Homo sapiens: one gene and its partner. The protein of the gene in region 1 interacts with the protein of each later gene in a biochemical or structural test. Each region holds a gene or a part of one and is shown in the gene's direction. Other genes may lie near its edges. The genes, in order: ZMIZ1 and NOTCH1.

The links.
Region 2: the proteins of ZMIZ1 (region 1) and NOTCH1 are reported together in a solved structure, tested with the Homo sapiens proteins (one study listed by BioGRID).

What each region holds. Positions count from the first base shown.
Region 1 is NC_000010.11:79,299,371-79,303,174, forward strand, and holds part of ZMIZ1 (zinc finger MIZ domain-containing protein 1), read left to right. Parts: intron 1-1,361; coding exon 1,362-1,572; intron 1,573-2,736; coding exon 2,737-2,842; intron 2,843-3,804. UniProt on the Homo sapiens protein: Acts as a transcriptional coactivator. Increases ligand-dependent transcriptional activity of AR and promotes AR sumoylation. The stimulation of AR activity is dependent upon sumoylation.
Region 2 is NC_000009.12:136,504,379-136,508,182, reverse strand, and holds part of NOTCH1 (neurogenic locus notch homolog protein 1 preproprotein), read left to right. Parts: intron 1-43; coding exon 44-228; intron 229-745; coding exon 746-878; intron 879-1,209; coding exon 1,210-1,467; intron 1,468-1,543; coding exon 1,544-1,656; intron 1,657-2,301; coding exon 2,302-2,873; intron 2,874-3,078; coding exon 3,079-3,510; intron 3,511-3,804. UniProt on the Homo sapiens protein: Functions as a receptor for membrane-bound ligands Jagged-1 (JAG1), Jagged-2 (JAG2) and Delta-1 (DLL1) to regulate cell-fate determination.

The sequences.
Region 1 (3,804 bases):
AGGTAGATGAGCAGTCAAGGTGTCGTGGCCCAAGGGCAGGGAGCAGCTGTCACTCACCCCAGAGGAAAAGGTGGCTGGCTCAGACCTAGGCTGGGAAGCTGTGTATCCCATCTGAGACCGTGAGCTGACAAGAGGGAACGCAGTCAAGAATTCGAGTGTGACTCATGTGGCCAGAGCCAGGAATGCAGAGATGAGGCTGGTGCAAGGGCCAGGCCGGGGTCAGGCAGGCCCCATCTATTGCAGGGGGCTGACCATTGGGCAGGGCTGCTGCTCAGACACTTAGGCACGTGCTGGAACACAAGGTCCGGAGGTTCCCTGCTGAGCCAGGCCCATGCTCAGCACCTTCCACGTGTGACCCACTTTGATCTTGGAAATGGGCAACACTTTCCCTTTTGACAGAGGAGGAAGCTGAGGCTAGAGAAGTGAATTGGCTTGTGTGAGTTCTCACAGCTAGCCAGGGGCGGAGCTGAGACTTGGGCCCAGGTCTCCAGGATGCCAGAACCAACCCTGGGGGTGTCCACCCTTCAGTCCTTCATCCTCAGTCAAGACTCACAGTCTCACTGTGCTTGTGACTCAGACCCCCTTGACTGCCCAGTGAGCATCTCCAGCGCAAGAGCTGGGTCTGTGCCTGGCACATGCACACACACCCCTGCTGTTTTCTTGACCATGCTGAGCAGGCTGGGTGAGGTGGCCACAGATAGCTGGTGTGGGCGTTCAGAACACAGGAGCTGCAACGCTCAGGCAGGAGGACAGAGGTCCCTGGCACGGGACAAACCACTGTGCTGCCTGCCTGCACCCTGCTCACCCACGCTCCTTAGCTGGGAGTGTCCTGGCCTGGGAGGCCTCCTCTTCCTGGCTTGCTTGTCACACATATATGGTCACTGCTGGTTCCTGACACTCCTCAGTGCTGCGTCCTTGGGGGGCCTCCTTGGGGAGTGCTCAGAACCAGAAATGGCCGTGGCCTGGGAGGACAGCTCCCAGCAGGTCTAGAGATGGGGTTGGCTGGCCTCACAGCAGGTCTTGTCAAATGAGTGCCTGTTCATTTGCCCCTCTGTCTCTGTCCTGGGGATCCAGGAGTTGACCCCTACAGGGAGGACATTCCAGGGAGATGGGAGCTAGAGCTGTGGGGTGTGATGGGAATGATTGGTGTGCGGGGGTCTTGGGGGCAGTTTGGGTGTAGAGGGAGTATCCAGAATGGGAGAGGAGAACTCAGGCTGGGGGAATCATTGGGGTCAGGGATGGGGTCCTGAGGATCTCGGAGGTTGTGGTGTGTTTAGAGGTGTGTGACCTGGCTCGGGGTCACGGAGGCCATGGACAGCCCCCTGGCAGAGCTGCCCTGAGCACCCTCGTTCCCCACCTAGGTCTGACCTGGAGCTGCAGTTCAAGTGCTACCACCACGAGGACCGGCAGATGAACACCAACTGGCCCGCCTCGGTGCAGGTCAGCGTGAACGCCACGCCCCTCACCATTGAGCGCGGCGACAACAAGACCTCCCACAAGCCCCTGCACCTGAAGCACGTGTGCCAGCCGGGCCGCAACACCATCCAGATCACCGTCACGGCCTGCTGCTGCGTGAGTGTGGTGGGCCAGGGGCAGCGTTGGCACAGGCAGGCCCTGTTTCACGGCATGAGAGTGCGGAATACCCTGCCCCACTCTGGTCCTCAGCCTTGTCCCTGCGTCACCACCCCCGTGCCCACAGCCGCCAAAGATACAGCGTCCCCTTACCTGTGCCCAGGGCCTGTGCAATAACCTTCAAACCGTTGGGCCTTCAAAGCCACTGTGCCCTGGCTTCAGACGTGGCCTCTTCCCCTGGACACTCAGCCTCCGTCTGTTCTCCACACATGCTTCCGATTCACCCCTCCTGGCCCCTCCTCCCTACCCTTCATTCATTGGTGCAGTTCTGTGTTCCTCAAAGCCATGTCCTGCTTGCCTCATTCACCAGCAGTTGTCATTGTCAGCACCTTTTCCCCCAGACCCAACGCCCCCAAACCTGGAGTTAACGCGTTCCCTTCTTTCCCAACCCCCTTGTCTTAGAGTCACGTATGGGGGTCCTTCCAACCCGTGACTTGTTACCTAGGACCAGCTCTCAGCCACCCTCATGTCCCCTGAAGATCAGGGCCCAACACACAGGGCTTGCTCAGGCCCCAGTGGAAGTAAATTGCCTGCCCCACTCCACTGGCCTCTCTGTGGAGGCATGGAGAAGGAAACACTCTGATCCACCCTTGTGAGCTTAGGGGCACGGAGGCTACACAGAGATAGGGGTCACAGACCTGGGCAGCACATCCCATTCTGGCTGGGGAATGTGATGTGCTGTGTGAGGCTGCACAACTGTCAGAGTGAGGCGGCTGATGGGTGGACGTTTGGGATGTGCAGTTCTGGAAGGCTTCCTGGAGGAGTGAAGGGAGGGATGAGCACCCTGGCAGGAAGGGCTAAGGACACATGATGGGGAGGCAGTGGTAGGGGAGGTTAGGAAGCAAAGTGGGACCCAGGCTTAAAGCCTTGTGTCCTATAACCTTATCCAGGGAGTATTTCAGTGTCAAAGTCCACCTTGTCGATCTGCAGCAGAGGCAGCCTTTCCAGAGTAGTGCTCAGGCTCGCAAGTCCCAGGAGACACCCTGGGGGAGCCTCCTGGGCCGGCTGTGGGATCCTGGGAGCAGTCTAGGGCTGCTGAGGCTGCAGGCAGGGCGGGGTGTGGGGACAGTGCACAGGAACTGAGTGTCTCCTCTCTCCCCGCAGTCCCACCTCTTCGTGCTGCAGCTGGTACACCGGCCCTCCGTCCGCTCTGTGCTGCAAGGACTCCTCAAGAAGCGCCTCCTGCCCGCAGAGCACTGTATCACGAAAAGTGAGTCAGGGTGGGGACGGGGGTGAGGGCCAGACTCCATCCCCGCCTGAGTTTGGGACTGAGAAGCAGTCACCATTCACCTGGAACTGACCTTTGCCTCCGTGCATGTCACCACCGGGCCTGGAGTGTCCCTGAGCGCGCCCTGTCCTGAGGCTCATGCCCTCCTCCTGGGGCTGTTGTCGTGGTCAGAGAAGCTAGGTCCCATAAGAGCTGGTGGGAGTTCTGGGACCTGCCCTGTGTGGAAGAGCTGGCAGTCCAGCTTGGGAGCCAGAACAGGCATACCTGCAATAGCAGCACAGGACATGAGGCAGATTAAAACAAAATGTCAGGAAGCAGGCTTCCTGGAGGAGGTGATGACCTGGGCCAGGCCTTTAAAAGATGGGAGGATTTAGAGAAGAGGGGATCTTCATCAGGCAGAAGGCATGGAGGGTGGATTCCAGATTGGCCTCCCTACTTCAACAGCTCATGCTTTTTTTTTTTTTTTTTTTTTTTTGAGAGAGAGAGAGAATGTCGCTCTGTTACCCAGGCTGGAGTGCAGTGGCATGATCTCGGCTCACTGCAGGCTCCGCCTCATGGGTTCACGCCATTCTCCTGCCTCAGCCTCCCAAGGAGTTGGGACTATAGGTGCATGCCACCACGCCCAGCTAAGTTTTTTTTTTTTTTTTTTGAGACGGAGTCTTGCTCTGTCGTCCAGGCTGGAGTGCAGTGGTGCTATCTCCGCTCACTGCAAGCTCCGCCTCCTAGGTTCACGCCATTCTCCTGCCTCAGCCTCCCGAGTAGCTGGGACTACAGGCGCCCACCACCGCACCTGGCTAATTTTTTGTGTTTTAGTAGAGACGGGGTTTCACCGTGTTAGCCAGGATGGTCACAATCTCCTGACCTCACGATCCGCCCACCTCGGCCTCCCAAAGTGCTGGGATTACAGGCGCGAGCCACCACACCTGGCCAGCTTATGCTTAAAC
Region 2 (3,804 bases), on another chromosome or scaffold:
TGTGGGCCTGGGCCTCACCTGTCTACCACCCCATCCCCCGCAGGTGTTGACGTTGCCCGCCTGTGCCAGCATGGAGGGCTCTGTGTGGACGCGGGCAACACGCACCACTGCCGCTGCCAGGCGGGCTACACAGGCAGCTACTGTGAGGACCTGGTGGACGAGTGCTCACCCAGCCCCTGCCAGAACGGGGCCACCTGCACGGACTACCTGGGCGGCTACTCCTGCAAGGTGGGGGTCCCTCCTAGGGTAAGGGTTGTGGCCGGCACGAGTGTTGCCACACACCAGGCCCTGGCTGGGAGCTGGCCCAGTGGAGAAAACTGAACCTGATAGGCCCATGCACTGTTCAGTCTCATTAGGGGAGGGCTGGGGTAATCAGGGTAGACTGCCTGGAAGAGGTGGCCTGTGGAAAGCCTGAAGGAGGGTACCTATACTGAGAAGTGGGATGGGGTTTTCCCTTCCCCTAGATTGTGTCTGGGCTTGGCCAACACCTACCCTGAGGCCCTCACCTCTATCCTATGGGACGGGGTCCACCCACCCCCAACAGGCAGTGACTCCGGTCACCGAGGCCCCGCCAGGGTCTGTTGGGCTGGGTCTCTCTCCAGGTCTGACAGGAGCGAGGGGCCCGTGGCTTCGCTGGACCTGAGGGCAGCTCATGTGGCCCTGTCAGCCCTCACAGTGGGGTGTGGGAGCACTGCATCCTGGCGCCGGCTGAGCCGAAGGGCCCCTCGTTCTGTCGCCTGCACAGTGCGTGGCCGGCTACCACGGGGTGAACTGCTCTGAGGAGATCGACGAGTGCCTCTCCCACCCCTGCCAGAACGGGGGCACCTGCCTCGACCTCCCCAACACCTACAAGTGCTCCTGCCCACGGGGCACTCAGGGTAAGGGCCGCTGCACGGAGGGCTGGTGTTGGCCATCCATGGCCAGGGCAGGGGCAGGGCAGGCACCCCGGGACCGGCCAGAGGCATCCAGGAACCAGCCAGAAACTCCCATTTTCCTGTGTGAGGCCAAGGCCGACTCACAGCTGCCCAGGGAAAGGGCCCAGAGCGGGGGTCCCAGTGGGAAGGGCGTCTCCACGGCACCCTTGACACCTGCCTCTCCCGAGTGTCCGTGCAGCCCCAGACCTGAGCGCTCGTCTTCCGGGACGGACACGCGGCACGGCAGGGCCGGGGTGTGGCGGGCTTGGGCCACTGACGAAACCTGGCCCCGCAGGTGTGCACTGTGAGATCAACGTGGACGACTGCAATCCCCCCGTTGACCCCGTGTCCCGGAGCCCCAAGTGCTTTAACAACGGCACCTGCGTGGACCAGGTGGGCGGCTACAGCTGCACCTGCCCGCCGGGCTTCGTGGGTGAGCGCTGTGAGGGGGATGTCAACGAGTGCCTGTCCAATCCCTGCGACGCCCGTGGCACCCAGAACTGCGTGCAGCGCGTCAATGACTTCCACTGCGAGTGCCGTGCTGGTCACACCGGTGGGTGCCGCGCCCAGGCGGGTGGGGCGTGTGGGGCAGCAGGGTGAGCCTCTCACTGCCCTGCTCTTACCCCTAGGGCGCCGCTGCGAGTCCGTCATCAATGGCTGCAAAGGCAAGCCCTGCAAGAATGGGGGCACCTGCGCCGTGGCCTCCAACACCGCCCGCGGGTTCATCTGCAAGTGCCCTGCGGTAGGTGCAGGGGTGCAGGGAGGCAGGGGCCCGCCAGGGGAGACACCTGGAGAGGTCCACGTGGGGGCCTCGGGGCGCAGACCGGGCAGTGATCCTCCCGGCCTTCATCCTCCTCCTCACCCTGATGTCTTTTTTTTTTTTTTAGTTTCAATAAATGATTTTAGAGACATTTTAGATTTATAGAAAAATGGAGCAGGAAGTAGACTCCCTGGGGTGGCTGTCCCCTGCACGCAGTTCCCCTGGTTAGCAGCTTGCATCAATTTCACTCTGGATTTCAGTGATACATTGTTACCAACAGCAGCCCTTCCTGTACCTGGGGCTTGCCCTTGGCTTTGTGGTTGTGGGTTTGGGCTGAGGTATGACATGCCTGCCCACCCTCGCAGGATCACGGCAGAGAGTCCCTGCCCTAAAGTCCTCAGCACTCCACCAGTTTACCCCTTCCTCCATCTCCCGACCCCCTGGCACCCCCGATCTTTCTCTGTTGGTAGAATGTGTGTAAAGGGTTTTGCTGCTGGGGGCAAGGTTGCAGGCCGCCTCCCAGGTTAGAGGAGAGCGGTGGCACTGCTGGCCGAGGGCTGGGTGTGAGGTGGCGGGGGGGCGGGGGGTGGCCCACCCCGACACCGTCCTGTCTTCCCTCTCGGGCAGGGCTTCGAGGGCGCCACGTGTGAGAATGACGCTCGTACCTGCGGCAGCCTGCGCTGCCTCAACGGCGGCACATGCATCTCCGGCCCGCGCAGCCCCACCTGCCTGTGCCTGGGCCCCTTCACGGGCCCCGAATGCCAGTTCCCGGCCAGCAGCCCCTGCCTGGGCGGCAACCCCTGCTACAACCAGGGGACCTGTGAGCCCACATCCGAGAGCCCCTTCTACCGTTGCCTGTGCCCCGCCAAATTCAACGGGCTCTTGTGCCACATCCTGGACTACAGCTTCGGGGGTGGGGCCGGGCGCGACATCCCCCCGCCGCTGATCGAGGAGGCGTGCGAGCTGCCCGAGTGCCAGGAGGACGCGGGCAACAAGGTCTGCAGCCTGCAGTGCAACAACCACGCGTGCGGCTGGGACGGCGGTGACTGCTCCCTCAACTTCAATGACCCCTGGAAGAACTGCACGCAGTCTCTGCAGTGCTGGAAGTACTTCAGTGACGGCCACTGTGACAGCCAGTGCAACTCAGCCGGCTGCCTCTTCGACGGCTTTGACTGCCAGCGTGCGGAAGGCCAGTGCAAGTAAGGCTGCGGGGCTCATGGGGCTGAGGGAGGACCTGAACTTGGATGTGGCCTGGCTTGGGCCCGGAGGCCAGCATGCAGTTCTAAGGCTCTGCTCAGGGGGTGCAGGGACGTCCCCCGCGGCTGGCCAGTGGGCTGGAGGCACCGGACGGCGGGTGCGAGGCCCCCCGAGGAAGGCGGCCTGAGCGTGTCCCGCCCCCCACAGCCCCCTGTACGACCAGTACTGCAAGGACCACTTCAGCGACGGGCACTGCGACCAGGGCTGCAACAGCGCGGAGTGCGAGTGGGACGGGCTGGACTGTGCGGAGCATGTACCCGAGAGGCTGGCGGCCGGCACGCTGGTGGTGGTGGTGCTGATGCCGCCGGAGCAGCTGCGCAACAGCTCCTTCCACTTCCTGCGGGAGCTCAGCCGCGTGCTGCACACCAACGTGGTCTTCAAGCGTGACGCACACGGCCAGCAGATGATCTTCCCCTACTACGGCCGCGAGGAGGAGCTGCGCAAGCACCCCATCAAGCGTGCCGCCGAGGGCTGGGCCGCACCTGACGCCCTGCTGGGCCAGGTGAAGGCCTCGCTGCTCCCTGGTGGCAGCGAGGGTGGGCGGCGGCGGAGGGAGCTGGACCCCATGGACGTCCGCGGGTGAGTGAGACCCGGCGCCCACGGTCAATCCCCGCAACTCTCCTGGGCCCTCCCCGACGGCCTCCCTGCCCCTCACGGCCGGCGCCATGGCAAGCAGTACTCTCCCCACTTTATGGTAAAAGAGACGGAGGTTCCGAGAGGACCTGGGACTTCAGGGCCTGCGCAGGCAAGGAGTAGAGGCAGCATTCCAGCTCAGGGCCCTGACCCCACAGCCACACCCTTTTCCTGGGCCACTGCCTTCCCCTGGACAGGCGGCACTCCTGTGCCCAGTAGGTGATTTTGAGATTGAGCTGT